Regions from separate parts of the Homo sapiens genome. Here region 2 is linked to region 1. The links come from fine-mapping of genetic effects on gene expression. Tissue or cell type: blood mononuclear cells. Region 1 holds a variant in brackets; the other region holds the start of a gene. All regions are shown on one strand. Distances are between the middles of the regions. Region 1 overlaps LOC101927066 (a long non-coding RNA gene). Region 2 holds the start of TSPYL5 (TSPY like 5).

Region 1 (12,541 bases):
AGGAATGTAAATAATATGCAATCAGAGAGCAGACAGTGACAAAGATGACTGCAAATTCTTTGACCCTCTTCCTATTAAGAGTTATTGTCTTATCTCCCTCCTCTTGAATCCAAGCTGGCCCTGCGGAATTGCTTGACCAATAGAATACACAGGAAGTGAAGTTTGGGACTTGTGAGACTAGGGCATTAGAAGCCTTGCAGTTCCTGCCTGGATCTCTTGAAAAGTTTTCTCTTAGAATACTCCTTTTTAGAATCCCACTATCCTGTGGATTCTAAATTCTGTGAGAAGCACAAACCACACAGACTACATATAAATGCTCAATCAGTAGCCCCAGAAGAACTCCCAGTCCTCAGTGAACATTGACTGGTGGCCATATGATTTGTCATCTCGGACATCCAGCCCAGTTCAGCTTTCAGGTGACTGCAGCCCCAGCTGCCATCTGACTGCATCTGCGTGAGAGACTATAGGTGAAAACTTCCCACCTGACCCAGTCAATCCACAGAACCATGAGAGATCATAGTAAATTGTTTTAAGCCATTAAATTTTGATGATGGTTTGTTATGTAACAAGAGATAACCAGATAAGGTTAAATCTTAGAGGTCAACAGTCATGGTTTCAAATCTCAAGTTCATCATTTATCAACTATGTGATTGTGGGCAAGTCACCTAAAATATCTGAGCTTCATTTTCCTCATCTATAAAATGGGAATCAAAACAGAACCCACCTAATGGGTTTGTTATGGGAATTAAAAGAGAGAATGTATGAAAAGCGACAATATAGTGACAGAAAGTGGGTCAGTAGGTAGTTACTATGGTTAGTAAACCAGTGTGAGTCATCTGCTTTTGTTGAAAGGTAGATGAGATGCTTGTGGCCATGTGGGAAGAATTAATTTAAGAATCTGGTCATTTTACTAAGGACCTGAGAGTAAGGTTAGGTCATTAGCATCTTTGTATTTGCTGTCCATTTTTCTATAATGGACTATAGGGGATTTTGATTCATGGGGGAAATGTTCTGAAAAAATCCTGGGCTCAAAAGAAATAGAAACACTTGGCCTTTTAAAATGGGGCTGTTATGGTTCCATAGACGGCACGTACCACCTCCACATGCGCTGAGCAGGCCTAGCTCACTAAGGTCATAGTGAGCAGGTGAGCAGACCCAGCCCTTGTTACAGTGAGACCAGAGGCACTAGCCTAGAGAGAAGGAGCAGGGGCTCTGAAGCCCCCTGGAGGCCTAAGATGCTGCTGCTGTCCACTGTATGTGCATGTGGATTGGTGAGTGGGTGCTGGAATTCCACATGGGGTGAGGGCAAACTTAAAGAGGCTAGACCCCAGCTGAGAGGTTTAAAGGAATGTCTTGATGTTCAGCACATCACCATACTGATGTGCTCAGTGAGCTTTGTCACCCATTCATTTATTTATATAGGCATTCACTCATTCAACAACCATTTATTGCATGCCTCTATGCACCAGGCCCTGTGCTATGCTCTGGGGACGCACGACACTTAAGAGACGGTTCCTCCCCTGTGATCATGAGGGGCTCATGAACCAGCAGGGGAGACAGACAGGTAAACAGGAAGTATGGCTAGGGGGTAAGTACCATAGTAGAGGGCGACATGGGAGTGCAGAGGAGGGGCTCCAACTCTGGCATCAACCTACTCCACCTTGGGAAAAAGTTCTAAACAGGGAAGCGAGTGAGTCATGAGCTGCATCTGGAAAAAGGGATAGGCTTGGGATTGACCTAGTGAACTGTAGGCAAAAGCCACCGACCAGAGGCACCGAAGGACAGGGCCACACTGGCATCTAGGGGCCATAGACTGGCACACTCTCAGGCAGCCCTGGAATCTGGTGAGTCTGTTCCACAACTCCCATGGGGCCTGCAGAGCAAGTGTCTCTCACAGGCACAGATTAAAGCAAAACATCTCAACTATGTCTTGGTTTTGGCTCCACAGATGACTTCTGTGTGGGCGAATCTTCTTAATGTGTTCTCTTACTTTTTATTGTCCATGCTGTAAAACGTTAAAAAAAAAAAAAAAAAAGCTAAAATAAACTTCCAGAGTTCAAAATGGCAGACTGTGACTAGGGCCAATGTCCTTTTCCTTCCAATGTTGGTTTGTCTGCCAAGTGATCTCATACTTGCTTGGTGAGGCTCTGCCTCCTCGACTCCTATCTTCTCTTTCCTCCACCTCCCCATTCCCGGCCACATGAGGTTCTCATCAGCATCATTGTGGTCAAAGGACTAGGCCCTGGGGTGCAGTCTGCCCTGACTCTCTTTGGGGCTTGGCTGAGGGAATTTACTTGTATCCTGCTTTAGAAGCTGAATTGCCTACAGAGGATTGGGACCCAACATGACATTTTCTGTCAGTGACAGTATAGAGCTCTCTATTTCCTTATCCAACTGATTGTTTAGGACTAAGTTAGGAACTGCTTTCTCCCTGGAGTAATCGCACAACATGGGCCAGCCATGGTCAAGTACAATCTGAGTGTAATGTTCATCAGCATCAGTTGGTGAGGGTCCTAGTTCTAGACTGAGAGCTCCTTCAGGGGAGGAAGCAGACTTTTGCCAATTTCCCAACACTAGCCAGCTCTGTGACATCTGGAAGGGGCTCAGTGGCAGTTGTTGAATTTAATCTGGATACCACCCAGGCAGGCAACAACCCTCTGGTTCACCTTATTATGAGAGAGGCAGTCTCTTCTACAACCAAATACTAATAATGATAATGGTAACAAAACACTATTACTATTTATTGAGCCCTGATGCTTTGTCAGATACTAGGATAGGCACTTTATATCCTTTACCTGATTTGAGAGCCAGAATCTCTGGGTGTATAGGTTTCACCGTCCTCGTTTTACTGATGAAGAAATGAAATCTCAGAGAGGGTAGGCAGTTTGCAACAGCCTGGTTGTTGGGGCTCAGAATCTTGGACAGTCCATTATGAAGACCCTGACTCTTTTTTATTTTTGCTTTTTTTGAGACGGAGTTTTACTCTTGTGGCCCAGGCTGGAGTGCAATGGCATGATCTTGGCTCACTGCAACCTCCACCTCCCGGGTTCAAGCGATTCTCCTGCTTCAGCCTCCCGAGTAGCTGGGATTACAGGCATGCGCCACCACACCTGGCTAATTTTGTATTTTTACTAGAGATGGGGTTTCTCCAGGTTGGTCAGGCTGGTCTTGAACTCCCGACCTCAGGTGATCCACCCGCCTCAGCCTCCCAAAGTGCTGGGATTACAGGACCTTGACTGTTATGCGTGATGTTTTGTTGTAAATGACTGCGCTAACACTGGTGGAAAGACCTAACCCTGCAGAATTCCCCAGGTACCAGGCAGCTGGGGGACAAATTTATACTCAAGGTTCCTCTCAGGCATCGCCTTTGTCTAGGGCAGACGTCTAACTCTGTCTCCTTATGGAGGACTGAGGGAGAAGCAGGAATCAGGCTTATGCAGTCGAAGGCTCAGTTTTAGTGCCCAAGCAGCAAAGAGATAAATGCCATCCTAATTCCCACTTAAAGTAAGCAGACAAGCCCTGGGGCTCACATGGACAGGAGGAAGCTGAGGGATTCAGTAAGTCTGTTTATTTTGGTTTGTATTTGACCTTGCATTACATTCACCAAGCAACTCCCAGTGAATGCAGAAACCTTTCCTCTGCCTCGGGAACATTTCCGTACAAACAGGAACACAGCACAGATGACAAAAATTAAGATGTACTCTCCAGCTTGCCTTGCTGTATTATTTAAAACAATTACTGTATGATTTTCCTTTCACATAGCCATGGAAACCCTGCTGAAAGGATTTAATACAATTTATTGTGTGAAGCTTAAGAAGAAATCTGTTTCCCCGGTGCTGGAAAACAAAGCAAGTCAGTTTCTCCTCACTTCCTACAAGGTGTGATGGACGCAAATTGTGGACCGGTGACCTCACCCAGCAGGGACTGAGCTTTCTGGGAAAGCATTCTGGAGATAAGTGGACCTGTTTCTTTTAGAGGCAGCGAAAAACAAAGCCGGTGCCAGAGGAATGATAATCTCCTTTGATGTGCCCGGAACTGCTTGACTGTTTCAGAAAGGGAAGCACAGCTCTGAGTGGCAGTACTACAATGCCTTTCAGTAAACACAATAGACAAATTTCCCTGCCAGGTTACCCCAGGAGCCTCTCCACTCACAGGATCCTCTTATAGGTATCTTGGTGTCAGCGATGGGATCTTAGGAAGGAGAGTCGCTTGACACCATGCTCTGATGAGAGGGTGGGCTCACTTTAGAGCCTATTAGTACCAATGGCACAGCTCAACCCTATCTGCCTGTTAGAAACTCCTAAGGAGCTTCAGAAAACATGGAAGCCTAATTCCCAGAACTAATTGATTATATTGGAACCTGTATTTTAAACAGCTCTCCAGATAATGATTATGTGCAGCTAGGGTTGAGATCCACTGCTCTGGGACTTGAACTTCTTTAGGCTGAACTCTTTGTCTGTTTACTTTCTGATTCTCAGCTAGAGACCCAGGGCCTGATGATCTGTAAACCTAAAAAGGCTGCTGTAGCACAAAACTCATCTTTGCAGCTCAGCTCTTCATCCCTAAATTCAGTGGGTGAAGGGAAGAATATTAAATTGCAGAAGAATTCCCCAAAATTGGGGAAGCTGGATAAAGCGTTCACTGGACCTCTCTGCACTGTTTTTGCAACTTCCTGTAAGTCTATAAAAATTTCTAAACAAAACATTTTTAAAAATTGCAGCTGAAGACTTGAATTCAAATTCTGGATTGTTACTTATTAGGTATGGGACTTAGGGAAATAAAAGACCCTCTGGGCCTTTTCCTTTGGAAGATAGGACAATTATTTCTATTTATTACATGATCAAATGAGAAAATAAAATTCTAGACCTAGATTTAGCTGGGGTCTCTTTGCCCCTTAAGGGGTAAAAGGAGATTGTTCAAACTCTCTGAGTCCATTTTCTGCTGCTATAACAGAATTCCTGAGAATAGGTAATTTGTAAAGAAAAGAAATTCAGTTCTCACAGTTCTGGAAGCTGAGAAGTCCAAAATCAAGGAACCAGTAGGGTTGGTATCTGCTAAGGACCTGGTCTCCATTTCCAACATGGTACCTTGAATTCTGCATCCTTCAGGAGGGATAAACGCTGTTCCTCACCTGGTAGAAGAGTGGAAGAGAGCCAACACACTTTCTCAACTCCCTCAAGACTCCCCAGCCACTGTCTTTTTAAAATGGTAGCTATGATTTATTGAGTGCTGATTACATGGCAACAGCTGTGTTAGGTTCCTTACATATATCACATTAATCTTGCAAGGAAGAAAGTGTTAGATCTGTGATGGAAACTGAGGCTCAGAGAGGTTGAGGAATTTGCCCAAATTAACACAGAAAGTGTCAGAGGTAGGCTCCAAAACCTATGTTTTTTCCATACTTCAGGCTACAGATGGCAGAACTAATAAACAGTTTTTGCTATCAAAAGAACAGACCAAACAAAAGTTAAGTTTATGAGAATTGTTGAGTGACCTCTATATATGGTTATGTCTGCTCTCTAAGCACCCCTGTGCTCATGTAAGAATAACTACCTCAAAGTAGTGGATATCTGCATATTGCCTGGAATGGTGCTGGGTACACAACACAGTTGGTGCTTGACGAATGCAGGTGTTGGTTGTAGTGCTGGCAGTCTTTGTTTGGTATGGTGGGGGGGGTGGTAAGCTAGTCCCATTACGTGATGTGGATATATTGTGCAAACCCTTTTTATGGTGGGATTAATCCATTCACAAAGACAGAGCTTTCATGGCCTAAACGTCTCCCAAAAGGCCCCACCTCCCAATGCTGTTCCATTGGGGATTAAGTTTCAACATGAGTTTTGGAGGGGATAAAAACATTCAAACTATTGCACCCTTGAACTACAGGTTATGGAACTTCCAACTACTTCCTCCAGAGTCACAGGAATTTTGGGGTAAATTACATGCTTGTGGTCGGTCACCTTGGGTTTTGAGCTCCTTCTTCCACTAAATTAATCAATTTACGTATTGTCTCACCCAAATATGGTGCCCAAGCAGCAAAGAGATAAATGCCACAAGGACAGAGGAGGAGGCTGAGGGATTCGGTAGGTCTGTTTATTTCAGTCTATGTTTGACCTTGCACTACATTTGCCAAGTAACTCAGTTGCTAACTTTCCTGAAACAAACCTCTCCCACAGGCATTTTTTGTGTGTAGGTGACATTACTGAAGGCTTGGAAAGATGAAAGGAATTGTACCATAGCATCAGAAACTGACTCAAACACAGTGTCATCCAATTCTGCTTCGAAAGGTTCCTTGGACCCCTTCATGTTGCTTGGTCCTCAACTCTTCTGTTCCCATCTTCCCTCCTGTCTTTTTCATTCACTCCCCCGCCCCCTGGTTTCTGCCCATTTCTTTCTTTCTCTTTTTTTAATGTTGACTTTTATTTTAGATACAGGGGGTACATGTGCAGGTTTGTTATATAGGTATAATGCACCCAGGTAGGGAGCATAGTACTCAATAAGTAGTTTTTCAACCCATACCCCCTCCCTCCCTCCCATCTGTAGTAGTCTGCAGTGTCTATTGTTCCCACGTTTGTGTCCATGTGTGCTCAATGTTTAGCTCCCACTTATAAGTGAGAACATGCAGTATTTTGTTTTCTGCTCCTGCATTAATTAGTTAGGATTATGGCCTCCAGCTCCATCCATGTTGCTGAAAGGACATGATTTCATCCTTTTTTGTGGCTGCATAGTATTTCATGGTATATATGTACTACATTTTCTTTATCCAATCCACCACTGATGGGCACCTAGGTTGATTCCATGTCTTTGCTATTGTGAATAGCTAGGTGATAGACATAGGAGTGCATGTGTCTTTTGGCAGAATTATCTATTCTGGAGGGGTGTATACCCAGAAATGTGATTGCTGAATCAAATGGTAGCTCTAAGTTTTTTGAGAAATCTCTAAACTGCTTTCCATAGCGACTGAACTAGTTTACATTTCCACCAACAGTGTGTAAGTGTTCCTTCTTCTCCATAGCTTTGCCAGCATCTGTTGTTTTTTGACTTCTTAGTGATAGCCATTCTAACTGGTATGAG[A/G]TGGTATCTCATTGTGGTTTTGATTTGCATTTCTCTGATTAGTGATGATGAGCATTTTTAAATATGTTTGTTGGTCACTTATGTTTCTAGTGTGGACCACTTTAGCTATTTCCTTTGTTTCCTTGGCTCTCATCTTTCCTCCAGGAAATTTATCAAAATATTTTCTGATCTATCCAGCCCTTCTAAAGCTCCATGGAACTTTAGTTGGTCAACAAAAGCCAGCCCCCAACTCCAATCTAGATGCGATGGTCACAGCCAGCTCAAGCTTGCTGTCCACTGCACGGCCTTATACCATGTCACCACCAGCCCTGTGGAAGTCCCAGAGAGTCAGAGATGAGAGCACTTGTAACTCAAACTTTCACTGATTTTCCAGGCTTAAATCTGGAGCCTACATTCTGGACTTTGGGAATTTAAAAATCTAACATTTTTGGAAAGAAAGGGTGTATAGAGGCTTCTTATACCTTGAATAAAAAATGGCATTTTGGAATGTAAGCAAGTGAGACTCCTAAGAATTAAATTTCGTCAGAAATACACAAATTTACAAAAAAAAAAAAAAAAAAAAGAAGAAGAAGAAGAAGAAAAATGCACTAGGCAGAGTGCCCCCTGCCAAACCTCACTCATTCAAGAGGAATTTGGAGTGATGTTGCTGCCCATAAACCTCCTGTCTACCTGGAGAGGGCCTGGGCTGGTATTCTGCAAACAGTTCCTTGTTTGTTCTCCTTCCTGTGGGTCTGTGTGCACTCAGATGATGGGAATCAGATTTAAATGGATAACTAGAAGTTGGAAGGAATCTGATTGGTTCTCACTGCCCAGGAGTAGCTCCATGATATGGTTTGGCTGTGCCCCTACCCAAATCTCATTTTGAATTTTAGCTCCCATAATTCCCACATGTTCTGGGAAAGACCTGGTGGGAGATAATTGAATCATGGGGGTGGTTTCCCCCATACTGTTCTCATGGTAGTGAATAAGTCTCAGGAGATAGGGTGGTTTTATAAGGGGTTTCCCCTTTCAGTTGGCTCTCATTCTGTCTTGACTGCTGCCATGTAAGACATGCCTTTTGCCTTCTGCCATGATTGTGAGGCCTCCCTAGCCACAAGGAACTGTGAATTCATTAAACCTCTTTTTCTTTATAAACTATCCAGTCTCAGGTATGTCTTTATTAGCAGCCTGAAAACGGACTAATACATTCCAGAAAGCCTTCCCACCTTCTTCTCCCTTGAGTGTCTACATGAGATGCAGAGTAGCTTTGTCTAAGATGGTATCCCTGAGAATTGTCTTCTCACTCAGGCAGAGTTGATTGGCTTCCCCGCTGTGCTGCCGTGGGATGCTGTGCATACCTCCATCAGAACAGACTTGACCTTCTGCTTGCAATTGTTTGCTTGCACGTTGGTTCGCTCTTTCCCCCCACCCCCTGCACTAGCTGGTGAGGTTCTTAAAGGCAGGAAACGCATCTTTCCCAACACATAACACAATCCCTGGTGCAGAGAAGACATTTGATAAATGTTTGCTCTAAGAATCAATGAATGAGGTCTCACCAAAAAAGAGCACTGAGTTTGCTAGGGTTATTTATTTTAATATTATGCAAAACACAGAGCAGACATCACCTTCTGTTTCTAAATCCTTTGTGATTGATTAATCAACAAGTTATTACTGAAGCTAGCTACAGCTAAGACCCAGGTGAGAGGGAAGCAATGGCAACCACATACTTTGAGAGGTTTATTAATCGACTGTATAACAACACTGCTGCATCACATTATTAGAGTCATTCTGCCTTAGAGCTCAGGGTTCTACTTATAAAGTGACTTGTTTAATTAAAAAAATCCTAGCAAGGATAAAGGATAGAACATTTTATAATTACTTGCCAATAATCATCAGCTCACCCATTATAGGGCAAGATTAAAATTCAGCTCTTCAGAACTTGAGAGTCTGTTCTCATATACTTTTCCTTGGAATAGTTCATTTCTGGAGAGAGACACTAAATACTTCTAGTGGGCAGTGATGTGTCTCTTAGCAGCAGAAGGCAGGACTCAGTTCCCAGTGGCCCTTTGCCCTTCTTCCTCTGAGGTCCTCTACACCTGGTCTGTGGTATAGGAGGACTTCTTAGCTTCCAGGTCAATGCTGGCACTGGGGATGGAGATGGATGATGGGAAGCTGCTGAGATACTTGCCAAGCCTCAATGCTCATGCCTATTTAGTGACCTTGTGTTGAGACAGCATGATATGTACTCATCTGTACTTCATGGAAAGTCAGTCCATACACATTTACTGAGTACCTTCTGTTGTAGGTGCTGAGGATTCTAGGTGAACAGGGAAGTCATGGTCCCTACCCTGATGGACTAGTGGAGAAAATAGACATTTAACAAATAAATGATTCTGAATGTGTAAATTGCTGTGAAGGAGAAGTGTAGTGCAAGTCAAGGGTATAACAGGAGTGGTGCTGGAGGCTGAGAACAGGGCCACCATGTGCTGTCGTGCAGACTGTAGTCTATGTGAATGGCACCCCCTGGAGATGTATATTACTTAACAGGTCTGGTCAATATGGCAGTTCTAGCTGAGAGGAAGCAAATGACATGCAAATTGCAAAGGAGGAAGAGGATTGGCGAGGTTAAGACATGTGCAAAGGCCCCAAAACAGAAAGAAGCTGAACATGGTCCAGTAATGGGAAGAACCAGTATGACCAAGTAGAGAAGTAGGCACTGGGGAGAGAGGAGGCAGTCAGGTAGAGCCTCATAAAGCCATGGCAAGGAGCTTGGATACTATTATAATTGCAATGGGAGACAGGAGGATTTTAGAGCTGGAAATGACATGATCTGATTTCTGTCATTTTGGATGCCATTCGGGTTGGATTGGGGCGAGCATGGTAAGATTGGAGATGTAGAGAGGGCTTAGGAGGCTATTGCGAGAGTCAGTTTGCAGAAGACTTGGTACGCATTGGGTGCCCAATAAACCATGACTCCCTTTTCCTTCCCTCTCTTCTAATCGTGACATGCTTTGTACTTCCCAAAGCACTTTCAATTTGTTATTTTATTTGATCTGCATTATAGCACTTTCAATTCATTATTTCATTTGATCTTCATAACAGCTGAAGGGGGTGAGGTGGGTATTATCACCCCCCTTCATGCCTGTGGTAACTGAGGCTTTGAAGGGAAAAATGGCTTTCAGGAGGTCCATCAGCCAGTAACTCCTGGAACTGGTTCTCAAATCAAATCAAGGAACTTGACCAATCCCCAACTCTACCATATTATGCAATGTCCAAATGAAATCATCTAATTAGTTAATTTGTTAAGCACGAAGAAGTAATTTAAAATTTCTAGGGGTTACGATTTGCAGGCAGAAAAAGAAAAAAAGAAAAAGAAAAATACCGGTGAAGGAGCTGGTATTTCCCTAGGAACAGCCTGGATCCAAACTTCAGAATAATTGCGTAAAGAACACTGTATTCCACTGGAGTCACAATAACGCTTTTCTTTTCATCTTTATTCACCCCAGTGTGGCCCACTAAAAAGGATCCAGTGTGCTCCATGTCTGAAAAGATATATTTTTGCTCATTAAACACCAAACAGAGGTTAAGACATTGACAGATCAACATTATTTATACTGAAGGAGGCAAACGTTCCTTTCAAAGACTTTCATTTCCTCTGGAAACGTGTGCTACCTGAGCCGTAGCCACCAAAATATGTATTTTCTTTTCCTTTTAAGGAAATGCCACTTCATTGCCAAACCTCAAACATAGCACCCCAAATGGAAAGAGAGGGTTCTCAGGTACGGCAGGGAGAAAACTCAGATTCAAAAGCCGCTCTGTTCTCATCAACTAGGGACTGCATCTGAGACCGTCTGTGGATTTAATGTTCTGCAAATCTACTGAAAAGAGATTTTCGTCACAATTGCATTATAATGTTTTTCCCCAAGAACACTCCTTGTTTAGGAGCCAACAGCTCAAACCTTGAACAAATTGTTCCCAGACCTTCCTTATTTCCAATCTCCTTGTGAAGAAAGAGGCAGGCATAAGGGAGGATCAGTCTTATCTCACCTTTGTCCTTGACACTGGGGAACACAAGATAAGTTGCCGTAACCCCTCGTTTTGACTTTGAGGACTATAATAAGCAATTGGCCCTTTTTCCTTTTTTTTTTCTTTGCCAGAGTTTTGTCAGAATTAATTCACTTGGATTTGCTGTTTTGCTTGAATCTCTGTGGAAATGACTAATGCAGAGCATTATAAGCATAGTCTCCATGCTTATGGAGCATGGGCCATTATGGCCCAGTGGGAAATGGAGAATTGTAAACATGAAGAGGGAACTTTTCCAGTAAGCTCGGGGAGGGAGCGGCAGAGAGGGGGAGAAGTTACTAGAACCCAATGCTGCAATGGCCCCCAGGTACGCTCAGAGGAAGCTCTGGGCTTGGGCATTCAGGAAAGACCCTTATGAGGATGCAAGGTTGCCACATATGCCTCCTTGGCTTGGCTTTGTTGTCACCACTGAGAAACCCCAGCCCCTTTCCCCTTGGCCCCTGCCCAGAGGTGGAAGGAAGGGGTGGGTGCCAGCTTTTTTGTGGCTGCATTTGCATCTCAGTTCTGGGGAGAAGGTGCAGTGGGGGGACCCAGCTGTGGCTGTCCTGCAGAAGCAGCGGCAGAGGGGGCGCCTGGGACACACTCTGCTTTCTCCCCTCCCTGCAGCTGCTCCACCTGTGCACAAGCGTCCCTGTCTGCACTTGCTTAAGTGTTTAGGCCATTCCTGACCCTGTAGGGGATCTTTCCAATCCCTAGACATCTCCTCCTTTTCAAAGACTTCCTGGATTTCTTCCCCTGCCATTCCCACTTCTCCCCAAACATTTTCCTCTTTCTGGGACTTGGTGAGAGTTTAAGTATTTACTACATCTGCTGAGGATTATTGGTGCACAAATTTGTATCCTTAGGGGTCTTTGATTGCAAGCAACATAAAGTGACTCTGGTTGGCCAGGGGAATGGGGTTATGGGGAGGTAGATCAGGTGCCTGTAGAATCAGAGGGAATGTTGGAAAACTAGGCTAGGAGACAAGCAAAAGGTGAGAAAGCCCTAGAGGATGAGGAAGCAAAGCCCCAGGAGTAGAATTCTAGCAGGACTGCATGCCCAGGGTGCCACCACAGGGGAGTAGGACTCTGGACATATCACCATTCCTAGGGACACGGACTCAAGATGCAGAGATGAGAAAGCCCCTGCTACTGAGTGTGGTCCCATGCCTGTCCCCTGTAACACTGGGATACTGAGGGAGGCTCTGGGGGAAGGAGATTTTGATTGCTTTATTTGGAGGGCAGGTGCCTGGGCTTACCATCCCACTACAACTCAAACCAGGAGGAAATCAGGGATCAGGGTGCTCTTAGAGAAGGTGAATGGATGCTGAGTGGGGTGTGAAGGGGACAACAAAGCCACCACACTTTCTCCCTTCCCCTTCTGTCCCTGATGCAGAGTCCCCTGGAGGGTCAGGGGGTGTGGGAGGTGC
Region 2 (12,541 bases), 47 kb before region 1:
ATGGAGTGTACCCACCATTCTAAATTTAACTCATAAGCAATGAATGAAAGACTTTCTTGGAGAGCACTCAGTTTTGCTTTAGAAGTTACTCTTAACTGTTGTAAAAAATGCTCATATTTCGAGTTTCATGGATTTCTTGATTTTTGCGATCATAACATATTTTATGAAGTCTTTTTTTAATACCTTTTGCTATTTTCTAAAATTATTAATGTGACTTATATTCCAGGGAGTTTTAAAGTCACTTGTTTCTTGAGTTTCTTCTGCCTTAGTGTTATATGGCTACATCTGTTAGATACTGGGTCTGGTCCAGAAAATACTATTGTAGTGAATATAATTTTTTATAGTTATAACAATTTATAAAATCCAGATGAATGTAACCATGGCAATTCAGGCAACTTGGTAACGTACTACTTGAAATTCAAGTTTCTTTGAGGTAAATATGTACTCATTTAGGGTGTTCCCTGTTTCTTTTCTCCATCTTCTCAGGAGCCAAGGGTTATCCATCCCATAACTGGTGAAAAGGTTTCTGGTGTGCATCTCATCTTCTGTCTTTGCTGGCCTCTGCTGAAGCTTAGCTGGCCCTGCCTAATCTTTGGGATCTTCCTCTACTTTTATTGTGTACGTTGATGCGGCACATCCTCATGGTATCTGATGACCAAGCCCTTTACTCTGCAACTTCTGGGCCTAGCTTGCAAGACCCAGTTGAACTCCATCTGCTCTTAGCCAACCTCTGGACCTCTCTTAGCAAGCCTGAGGAACATATGGCTGCCCTTCCACTTCATTCTAGGGCTGCCAGAGATTGGGAGTGGGGGGCATACAGGGTGAGAGAAGCCATTTCAGAACTTTCTTTGTTACCCTATACATACTTTTATACTGTCTTGGCTGCCCTTTGATGGTATGGAGCCCTCTGAGAAAAGCCCTTTCTTGTGTGAGTTTCAATTGTCAAGTTAGGAACTAATTCTCCCTATTCCCATACCTCTGTCTTGTCCAGAGAAGGTTGTCTTTACCAATGCTCCAAGGGTATTGACCCATGTGGTGGTCACTGTGTGGTCACCGTGAGAAGCATTTCTCAAGACCCTACACCAACTATTCACTCTCTGAATCTTTTCCAAGTTCCTCGACTCCAGACCAGAAAAGGTTCTTAGCTCCTCTTTGTGTAGCAGAGAAATGGCTTGTATATCATCATGTTTTTCCTCTTCTACGGTTAATGTTATAAACTCTATGCTATTAGTGCTCCAGGACTTATCTTTGGAGAGCTAAATACACACACACACACACACACACACACACACACACACACACACGTCTCTCTCTCTCTCTCACACACAGTGAGAGTAGAGGCAGTGTGTGCGTGCGCACATTTAGCTCTTCAAATATATATCAAATATATATATCTTTCTCTTTCCATGATATTGTGTCTTACCCTCTTAAGAGCCAATTTTGAAATTCAAAGTGAAGAATTTGACTGGCTGAAATTCTGCTTGCTGGGTTCTTTGCTTTTTTTTTCCCTTTTCTAGAACAAAAGCCTTAGCCTAAGATCTTTTTTAATGGTTAAGATGCTGCAGGATAAAAAGGAAATGCCAAGAAGAAAGAATACGTCAGGCAATACTTTAAAATATTTTATAGCTACTTATAGGATATGATCTGAAATAAGTGACGTGGTCTACCATAAAATTTTCCTCTTTGGCGAGGAACTGGCAAGAAGCTAGGCAAATTTCTCAAGATGTTAAGCTCAAATAGTCTTGAAATTTATCATAAGAGGCAGATTTTTCTCTCCCTCCCTCCTTGACTATGAAAATATTTCTTAGGACACTGCCTTCTTTTCCATACCCTTTGGTAACCTGGGAGGGTTGGTTGGCAAAATTCCACACAGTAAGCAATACTCACTGCTATCTAACAGACTTAAACTTTCTCCTTGGGGAAGAATAGAAAAGTGCTGTGGCTAAAAATGTCAAGTCTGGGATCCTAAAGCTCTACGAGAGAAATGATGGGGAATATTGTTCCCTTGGCTGAGGAATAGGCTGGATGACAAATGTCTTTTTCCCAGCTTGTAAATTTCTGTGATTCAAAGAAAACATATCAAAAGGAACGGAGAAAGCACAATATGCAGAAAACAAAAGTGAAGATTTTTTATTCTAATATTTTGAATTACATACACACAAGTACATATGCATATACATACATATAGACATAATACACATAAACATTTGAAAAATATTTTATGAATTTCTAATAAATATTTGCTAATAAATATTACATTAGAAATAATCAATTAAATGCTTATATTACCATCAACTTAAGCCTGCAGATATTGCAAGAAGTTCACAACACTCCAGGATCTCTGAGTTCATGACAGTAAACTTGCATTTCTTTCATAATATTAACAGGATGCTTATGATAAATGCAGTGCAAATAGAGATGCTTCGTTCTCATCATGGGCTGTTGAAACTAAATTTATGTTGAGTATTGCTATGCCAGGTATATTGTATACCCCATAAATAAATGACTCATAACTAAATGATGTATGTATTATGTGTATATGTATGCATCTGCATATGTGTGTGTATATATATTTTTAATATATATAATTTTTTTAACATTAAAAGGTATTTTTACCCACTGGAGAGAGTTTTAATCTCTTAAGCCATAATTTTACATTATGTATTTTTAATTAAGAGCACGGTGCTGGAGTCGCATCGCTTGGGCAAAAAACATTTATTAACTGTGTGACCTTGGGCAAGTTATGGAACCATTTTGTGTGGCAGTAACCTCCTCCAAGACGAGAACAATAATTGCACCTGCCCCATGGGGTGATTGCAGAGATTAAATGAGTTAAGGCATAGCACTATATAAAAGTATGAAATAAATGTAAACTTTCATTATAATTACTGGTATGTGCAAGGCCCCATGCTAGGTACTCTGAGAGATAAAAGTAAAAAGAGACACAGTCTCCACACTTACACAGTTTACTATCCAATTAGGAACACAAACTACAGTTCCACATAAAGTTAAATATTAAGACCCAAGAAGAAAACACAGTCCAGTTCAGCAGCACAGACCAAACTCTTAAATACAAAAGCCATGGGGAACTGGGTGGCTTAGAGCAGAGGGGTATTTTTTTAAATTATTTCCCTTCATCTGATGCTTATCTCTTTGACATGATGAAAAAAGGCTCAAGGCAGATTGTATAATAAACACATTGCAATGGCCCAGCCCTGTGTTAATCCTACAGTGGTTTAGCCATTGGTGACTGCTACATGACGCAGATGCTGACGCTGGATTAAGACTCTTGACAACAGAGATGGGTTGATCTGTGAGTGTTCTAAGAAGTGGGCCAACCCATCAATGTCTAAAGTCTATAGAGGGTTGGCAAATGCGTCAGATGATTTTTTAATTTTTTTTCTGAGGTTTACGGAGAGTTTCAGGCTGTGATTATCTAGCTTAAGAGGTAATTTTGTAAAAGAACTGGTACAAAACAGGGTGTGCCCCACTGCCAAATGAATACTATAGTTAACAAGTACTCTGTGAGATCAAGGACAAGGCTGCTTATTGTGGTCTGGGGTGATCACAGAAGGCCTTGGGAAGAAATTATTATGAAAGGGCCTTCAACAAGAATTTAAGATAATCCTTGCACTAATTAATCCCTTTTAAGTCAAATATTAAATCTCCCAACTTAATTTTTAAATTTGTCACTCTAAATTCTTACTTACAGACTGTCCCTGAATGGTGCTCTGTAACAAAAGATAATTTTTTGGCTAAATTATGAGTTTAGTAGGTTTCCATGAGTTGATCTGAGAATACAGCATCCATAGCATTGCTTCTGTGGGAAAAGGGGAGCTATTCTGAACTTCAGACAATCATTTACAAACCCATTTTTGAAAACTCTGCTTTGATTGGTTCTTTCTTTCAACAAGTATTTATTAAGTGCTCTTGATATGTCAGACACTGTTGCAGGCACTGAGGATACATCAGTGAACAAAACAAAAATCTCTTCCCTCATGGAGCTGACATTCTAGAGAGAAGAGATAGTTAATAAGCATAATAAATAATTGGTATAGTGTGTTGGAATAAAGAAAAAGTACCATAGGATAAAGGGATGGGGTGGGTGGCAATTCTAAATAGGATGGTCATTGAGAAGGTGACATTTAAGCAAAGTGTGAAGGCAGCTGGCCAAGGCCACCAACCACATTGGGAAAGAGCATTTAAGGTAGAAGGAAGAGCCAGTGCAAAGGCTCTGAGGCAGGAGTTTACCTAGTGAGTTTAAGAACAGCAAGGAAGCCAGTGTAGCTAGAGGTGGGAGAGAGGAGAGAGAAGATGAGGTCAGAGAGGTAACTCATGTAGTGGCAGATAGAAGACTTGCCAGATCATACAGGGCCTTGCAGGCTATTCTAGAGCTTTTGAGAAAATGAGGAATCACTTGTATTAGGCCGGCTTAAAATAGGGCCATCTGTATAAAAATAATTCCTCTTTAAATTGTTTCCTTAAACTTAGGGGTGTATACAAATCACCCAGGATCTTGTTAAAATTCAAATTCTGACTTAGTAGGTCTGGGGAAAGGCCTGAGATTCTGCATCTTTAACAAGCTTTCAGGTGATATCAGGCTGCTGGTCCACAACCACACTTTGAGTAATGAGGTCCCGGGGCTTTTGGGCTTATCTCTCCACTAGCTGGTTACAAGGGCCTTTTTGTTCCCTTTGAGCCTGAAAAGACCACCTCAAAAGGTTTTTCTTTATATTTTTACATTAGCCACAGGTCCCCTCACTGTTCATGGTCCTATTACCTCACTAGTAAGAGCGTGGTCCAGGGCTGCCTCCGGGACTGTGGGGGAGGTTGTCCGGCTGTTTCCATGCACAGTGTAAGAAGTTTCTAGGGCTTCTGCAGTGCCACGTGGAGGCTCTGCTTCTGAACCTCAATCTGCTCCCTGAATAATAATTTCACCTCTCACCACATTCTTGTCTTACTCCAATTACAGGAGCTCTAATACAGGTCTTCACTTCTGGTCCTATACCTAGAGTGATAGTCCAGATCTGTAAACTGAGGCAGCTGGGGGACTCGGGTGATGTTCCCAGGCAGAAGAGGTGGTCAGGTGGTCCACGGAAGCCTGTTTGTTAAGGAGCAAGGCTGATTTCTTAAGAGCCAGCCCAGTAATTGACAGTGGAACAAGTCTGGAAGGACTTGCCATTTCCAAATATAAGGCATAGGATACGGAGTCCCATGGGCTTGAGTTTGAATTGTGCTTCCATCCCTTACTGTGTAACCTGGGGAATGTGCCCGGGTGTCTCTGAGATGCAGTTTTCTTATCTCGAAAATGGGAATGATATCAACACCTCCTTTGTAAATTGAGATAATGCATTTAAAGCACCTAGTAAAGTGCCTGGCACAAATGATACAAAATACTAGTTGCCATTATTTTTATAATTTCTACTATCATCTTACTGCGTACCAAATCGCTTTGACGCCCGGCATTATAGCATCCACCTTTACGTTCTCTGGAGTTAAGGTACCAGAGCAAATCCCTCAGCAAAGGTGTTCAAAGAGAGACACACACGCCCGAGCACTTTCTTCATGACAGATGCCACAAGAGATAACTGGAGGAGCTGAAGATGTTTAGTTTAGAAAACAGGTGATGGGGGACAGGTGGTGATGGCTCTTAGCGTTGCCTTGTTCAACGAGACCCTGAGAGCACGATGAGCCCGCGCGGAAGAGATGAAATGGCAGCACCCCCGCGAGCGCATATCAGAGAAACTCGCCGAGACCTAAAGCGAGTCCGCGCGAGATGGGGGTGGGAGCGCCCGCGGGGGTCGTCTCCTGCGCAGCCGCAGCGGCGGCGCCAATCACCGGGCGCATCACGTCCTCTCGCGACGGTACAGTTGTACGTTCGTGACGTCGGCGGTTGCCGTGGAGAGACCCGCTCGGTCCCGACCGAGAGCTGGCGTCAGGAGCCGCAGGGTCACAGCGTGTCTTTGAAGCTGCCTCCGCCGCCACCATGAGCGGCCGAAGTCGGGGTCGAAAGTCCTCCCGCGCCAAAAACCGGGGCAAAGGCCGCGCCAAAGCCCGAGTCCGCCCTGCTCCGGACGACGCCCCGCGCGACCCGGACCCTTCACAGTACCAGAGTCTCGGGGAAGACACCCAGGCGGCACAGGTGCAGGCTGGCGCGGGGTGGGGTGGCCTGGAAGCCGCTGCGTCCGCGCAGCTCCTCCGGCTCGGGGAGGAGGCCGCCTGCCGGCTCCCCCTGGACTGTGGCCTCGCGCTGCGGGCCCGAGCTGCGGGGGACCACGGGCAGGCCGCGGCCAGGCCCGGCCCGGGGAAGGCCGCATCTCTCTCGGAGCGCCTGGCCGCAGACACTGTCTTCGTGGGAACAGCGGGAACCGTGGGAAGGCCGAAAAATGCCCCCCGCGTTGGAAACCGGCGTGGCCCTGCCGGGAAGAAGGCCCCAGAAACCTGTAGCACCGCGGGGAGGGGGCCTCAGGTCATAGCTGGTGGGAGGCAGAAGAAAGGGGCGGCAGGGGAGAATACCTCGGTGTCAGCTGGGGAGGAAAAGAAGGAAGAGAGGGATGCAGGGTCGGGGCCCCCAGCGACGGAAGGCAGCATGGATACGCTGGAGAACGTGCAGCTGAAGCTGGAGAACATGAACGCCCAGGCGGACAGGGCCTACCTTCGGCTCTCCAGGAAGTTTGGGCAGTTGCGACTGCAGCACTTGGAGCGCAGGAACCACCTCATCCAAAATATCCCGGGCTTCTGGGGGCAAGCATTTCAGAACCATCCCCAGCTAGCATCCTTTCTGAATAGCCAAGAGAAAGAGGTACTGAGCTACTTAAACAGCTTGGAAGTGGAAGAGCTCGGCCTTGCCAGATTGGGCTACAAAATCAAGTTCTACTTCGATCGCAACCCGTATTTCCAAAATAAGGTGCTCATCAAGGAATATGGGTGTGGTCCTTCTGGCCAGGTGGTGTCTCGTTCTACTCCAATCCAGTGGCTCCCAGGGCATGATCTCCAGTCCCTAAGCCAGGGAAACCCAGAAAACAACCGTAGTTTCTTTGGGTGGTTTTCAAACCACAGCTCCATTGAGTCTGACAAGATTGTGGAGATAATCAACGAAGAATTGTGGCCCAATCCCTTGCAGTTCTACCTTTTGAGTGAAGGGGCTCGTGTAGAGAAAGGAAAGGAAAAAGAAGGCAGGCAAGGTCCAGGAAAGCAGCCAATGGAGACTACTCAGCCTGGGGTGAGCCAATCCAACTGATCCTGCACAAGTCTCCCTGCTACCTCCTGCTGGGCTGCTCCTGGTTGACTACATATTTGGCTCTCTGCCTTCTCTTCATGTTGGCCTCTGTGTACTATAGACCCTTTGGACTTTAGTTACAAGAATATGGCATTTATGATCATGTTCTTTTGCCTCCCATAGCCTCTTGCTTTTCTACGTTAGTGTCACATGTTATGTGATCGCACCCGGACTGTTCATATGTTAAGCACACATACTTTAGATGTGTGCTCCCTGTTATCTACATTGCCTGGACCTTGTTCTTGGCTCTGGCCTTTCCTACTTGTCTTTAACATGGACACTCATGAGTCATCCTCCAGGACGACCAGTGCATCCTCAAGCTCTGCTCCTTCAGGGCCAGTGACTTGCTGGGCTTCGTGTTCATGCTGGCCATGCATGTCATCTATGCAAGCGTTTCCATTGCCACTGCAGAATGAAGCCAGTGCACATGGTATTAGTCATCAGCCAGAACTTCCTGTTCTGTGGGTCTGGGGTCACCAGCTGAGATGTCACCTGCTTTATTTCTGGCTTTGGCCTGTGGTCTGTGATACCCATCCTGCTTGATGTTCTGCAGAATGGCACTTGACTGCTGGGCATGCATGAAGTTAAGGGCAAGAAACAGTATGCCATGTGTTCTGTACCATCATGTGTCTCTTCTTGCTTCTGGGCCCTTCTACTGGTGAACTTTCATCAAGATCTGCGCCATGCCGTGTCACTATCAAGCCATTAAGTTTTGTCTGGGTTGCTGTCAGCCCCAGTTGGCTTCCTGGTCAACAAGGACCTCAAGAACTGCCTGTGGACCGAGGCCCCCTACCAGTGCATGAGACACACACCTACCCTCCCCAGCTTTCCAGGAACCCTACTGGCTGCCAGACTGATGGGCGGGCTGGTATGTGTGGACATGTGTTCACTGTCATTATGCTGTGGCTCCAGGTGAGGGTGAGGACTGGGCCTATATAGAATCCAGATACCATTGTCAACTTCCCTTATTCCCGTCTAAGATGTGAGCAGAGTGCCATAGTAGGGGTTCTGGGAAGAGGTATTTCTGATTTGTGGGCCTCTGCTTGCTTGACTTCAGGTCACTTATACTTCTTATTTTGCTTGCCTGCCTTCATCCCTCATTTCCTCCCTCTCATTCTTCTTTCCTCCCTCCCTTTCCTGGTAGCCTCCTTTCCTCCCCTTCTGCCTTCCCCTTCCTTCTTTCCTTATTCTTTTTTATTTTGTTTAAATAGTACCACAGAGAAAACAACTGAAAAACCACATTTTTCTACATACAGCTGGGGAGGTAGCTGAGAACTTGGCACTGCGCACACATACTAGGTTGAAAGAGAGTTGAGGAAACCAGAAGGCCAAGTGGATCTGCTGGCAAACCCTGAACCTGTCTCCTGCGCTTGCTCTACAGTTCTGAAGTTGAAAATCCTTTTCATGCCTAGCATCTGCTTGAGTTATAAACCCCAAGGCAGCCATGTCATAGACTAGTGTTTACTCTTGTTTTGACTTTGTTTTAATGCTTCCTAAGACCCAAGTGCCTCCTGCTGTTTCCTCCTTTGTGGTAGCCTCTGGCCATCTGGACCTCAATCCCCAGCTTTCCCACTTTCAGCAGTCCTTTGCTCTCTTTGCTTCTACCTCAAATAGCCCCAGGAGTGGGCTTTAGTCTCCAATATGGAGCATCTCAAGCTTCTCCTGGGGGATGGGGATTGGGATGGGCAGAATCTGTTTTGGATCTCCGGGTTATTTCCAGTGGGTGTAAAAGCAGAGCTGGGCCTTTCCCTCTCTTATCCCTGAGGGTGGGTAAGAAGGACTGTATCTACACCTGTTCTTCCCTACCTTCTCTTTTGTTAGGGAGGCCTCATTCTAAGTTCCTCAAGAGAGTCCTTGGCTTAAAGCTGTAGCAAGGGTGTGCTAGGTGGGGGATTTGGAGCAAAACCGTCGAGTAGGCATGATACTGGTATGGAGTGGGCCTGCAAAATCAGACAGAAATGGCTTGAGAAGCCGCAGGGGGAGCATGCCTGTCTCTCAGTGATAGAGTATGGGAGGGACCTCCCTAGCTTGGAAAATGAGAATTGAAGGGGTTATGAACAAATAGGATGCCTAGTTGAGGATGTTCCCAAAGTTTTGTCCAATCTTATCATTAGTAGATTTTATAAGCCACAGAGACAAACCAGAAACGGAATAATGTTACTTTGGATGCTTTATTTTTTTGTTCTAGGTGTGGCTTTGTACATGCAGAAGAATGCTATATGCTGCACATTTTGCCTTTAAAGTCTTACGACTTTCCCCATTTTAGTCTAATGGGAAGATACAGATGTGCAAGTCTGCTTTTTTGTTTTTTGTTATTATTTTTTTTTTTTTGCTCTGTGTTATGGACATTTTCAGACATGCACAGAAGTGGAGAGGATGGTCCTTGGACCCCATGTGTCCATCACCTAGCTGCATCACTTATCAGCTATGGTCAACCTGGTTTCATCTGTATCTCTCTCTTTTCACCTGTATTGTTTATTGAAAATCCAAGACACTATGCCAATGCAACCGTGACTACTTTGGGAGATTGGTAGTCTCTTTTGATGGTGATAGTGATGGGGTGCACTATCATAATCACATCAGGTCTGCTTTTTGCTTTTAATGTTAACTAATGAAGTTCCAGAGATGGGCCTTAGAAATGTGTTTTAAGAATTAACAAGGAGTCTCAAAAAGAAATGAGAGGGATGCTTCCTTTCCCTTGCATCTACAAAACAAGAGAGAGACTGTTCTGTTGTAAAACTCTTTCAAAAATTCTGATATGGTAAGGTACTTGAGACCCTTCACCAGAATGTCAATCTTTTTTTCTGTGTAACATGGAAACTTGTGTGACCATTAGCATTGTTATCAGCTTGTACTGGTCTCATAACTCTGGTTTTGGAAGAATAATTTGGAAATTGTTGCTGTGTTCTGTGAAAATAACCTCCCCAAAATAATTAGTAACTGGTTGTTCTACTTGGTAATTTGACACCCTGTTAATAACGCAATTATTTCTGTGTTCTTAAACAGTATAAATAGTTGTAAGTTTGCATGCATGATGGAAAAATAAAAACCTGTATCTCTGTTATATTTCTGATTTTCAAAAAAGAATTGGAAGGTTTTTAAACAGAGGCTGGGCAGCTGAGAGAATATATACATTGCCCTAGATAAGTGATTCCCAAACCGCAGACCCTGACTAGCTACACAAAAATACATAAAATTTTGATTTCTAGGCCTTTTACCCAAAGATTGAGATTCTATGAATCTGAGAGGAAGCCAGGTAGCTTAGTTTTTAACATGCTTTCTAGTTGATTCAGAAGCGGTGAACTCCCATTAGAATAATCTAGATTCTATGAATCATCTAGATTCTAGTAGGAATACAGTGCTTCTTAAATTTTAGAGTACATCTGAATTGTGTGGTGAATCGTGTTAAAATATGCATTCTGATTTAGTAGTTTGGGATGGAACCTGAGATTCTGCATTTCTAACGAGTTTCCAGATGATGACAGTGCTGGTGATCTGTGAACTGTACTTTGAGTGGAAAGGGGGGGTGACCTTGAAGTCCCTTTTAAACTTAAGTAGTGGTTCTCAACTTTGGTTGCACACTAGAATTGTCTGGGAAGCTTACAGAAACACTGCCAGAGCTCCACACGAAGACCAACTAAATCAGAATGGGGTAAGGGATAGGTCTGGGTGTAGGTATTTTTAAAACTTCCCAGGTGATTCTAGTGTTTAGCCAGAGCTGAGAACTACATACTCTGATGCTGTTCATTTCAGATCCATAACAAGGATCATTTCCCATTAATCAGGAGAAGCAGTGGCAGACAACCAAGTGGCACACTAAGCTGCCCAGCAGAAAATGGACAAAATTAGAAGTGGGTGGTTACTGACAAGAAAATAAAATTGGCTTATATGACGAAGGGTTTTAATAAACATGCAGTGTTCAGGGCATAGTAGGTGCTACAGTGTTGAATGAATGAATGAATTTAAAGCAGTTTATATTCAGATGCCTGAGGGCATTTGAATTTGGTAATTTGTGAAGTGGGCCACATTTGTTTCATAAGAAGATCTTATCAGTTTTCTGGGGCTGCCATAACAAAGTACCACAGACTGAGTAGCTTAAACAACAAATTTATTTTCTCAGTTCTGGAGGCTAGAAATTCAAGATCAAGGTATCAGCAGGGTTGGTTTCTTCTGAGGGCCTCACTCAGCTTATAGATAGCTTTCTTCTCTCTCTGTCTTTACATGGTCTCTGTGTGTGTGTGTGTGTGTGTGTGTGTGTGTGTGTGTGTGTGTGTGTCTCTGTGTGTATATATATCCTAATCTCTTATAAGGATACTAGTCATCTTGAATTGGGGCCCCTCTAATGACCTCATTTAACTTTAATTACCCTTTAAAGACCCTGTCTCTAAATTCAGCTACATTATGAAGTATTAGGGATTATGACTTCCACATATGAATTTGGTGTGAGGGCAGGAGCAATTTAACCCCTCACAACATCTTAACTTGTATTCTTTTGACACATATGTGCCTCACATGTTATGGTAGTTAATTGTATTGAGGCATATCATGTGCCAGGCACTGTTGCAGGCGTTATACAAGGATTAATATATTAAGTCCTTATAACAAGTGATAATTATCTCTTAATGAGGGGATGGGTTGAAGAAATGGGGTAAAAAGAGGTTGAGTAAATTGTTCAGGATCATGCTGGTAATGAATGAGCCAGGCTTTAAATTCAGGCAGTCTGGTTCAAGAATGCACCAGCTCACATATAGCTCTTGACTTGAGTAGGAATAATCTTCAGTTTATCAACAGTATCTTTATGTAGAATCTCCTAATTTTGCATGTTAAACATAATTTAAACCCTTGGAGTTTTTCTGATATGTGGAATGCAGAAGGGATGGAGAGCAGCATCTCCAGGCCTGATCTTCCTCTCAGGATTCACTCAGAGTCTGCTTGGATTATGAATTGGGAGGGGCTCTCTGCCCAGTTCAATTTCATTTATGCACTTGCTTCTCTGTGGGTGCAGAGCCTCTGTTGTCCAGGCCCTCTTTCAAATACCTCTCTTCAGTTCCTTGGACAACCCATTCAATCTGGGATTTACTACTTCTCCATGGGCTCATTCACTCATTGCCTCTTATATGAACCAGTCCTTGGTGTAGACATTGGAGATACAGCTATGGACAAATACAACTTTGAATTTTTCTTCCCCCACCTGCACTCCACCCCGCCACCCACCTGCCATAGGCTTCAGTCTCTTCTTAGCTTTCACCTGGGGTTGACAGT

The links.
Region 2: it holds the start of TSPYL5, and the variant in region 1 is fine-mapped to the expression of TSPYL5 in blood mononuclear cells (TOPMed, PIP above 0.99).

What each region holds. Positions count from the first base shown.
Region 1 is chr8:97,223,851-97,236,391 of GRCh38, reverse strand. The region is part of intron 2 of LOC101927066 (a long non-coding RNA gene); the gene reads left to right. Among named protein-coding and RNA genes, the nearest start is that of TSPYL5, 48 kb to the left of the region's middle. RefSeq lists an enhancer at 3,760-4,367. The variant A/G (reference allele first, on the strand shown) is at 7,072.
Region 2 is chr8:97,271,290-97,283,830 of GRCh38, reverse strand. TSPYL5 (TSPY like 5) reads left to right here and starts at 5,903. Exons shown (of 1, transcript NM_033512.3): 1 at 5,903-10,343. The coding sequence starts at 5,987. The coding sequence ends at 7,240. The region is part of intron 2 of LOC101927066 (a long non-coding RNA gene); the gene reads left to right. RefSeq lists an enhancer at 6,365-6,866.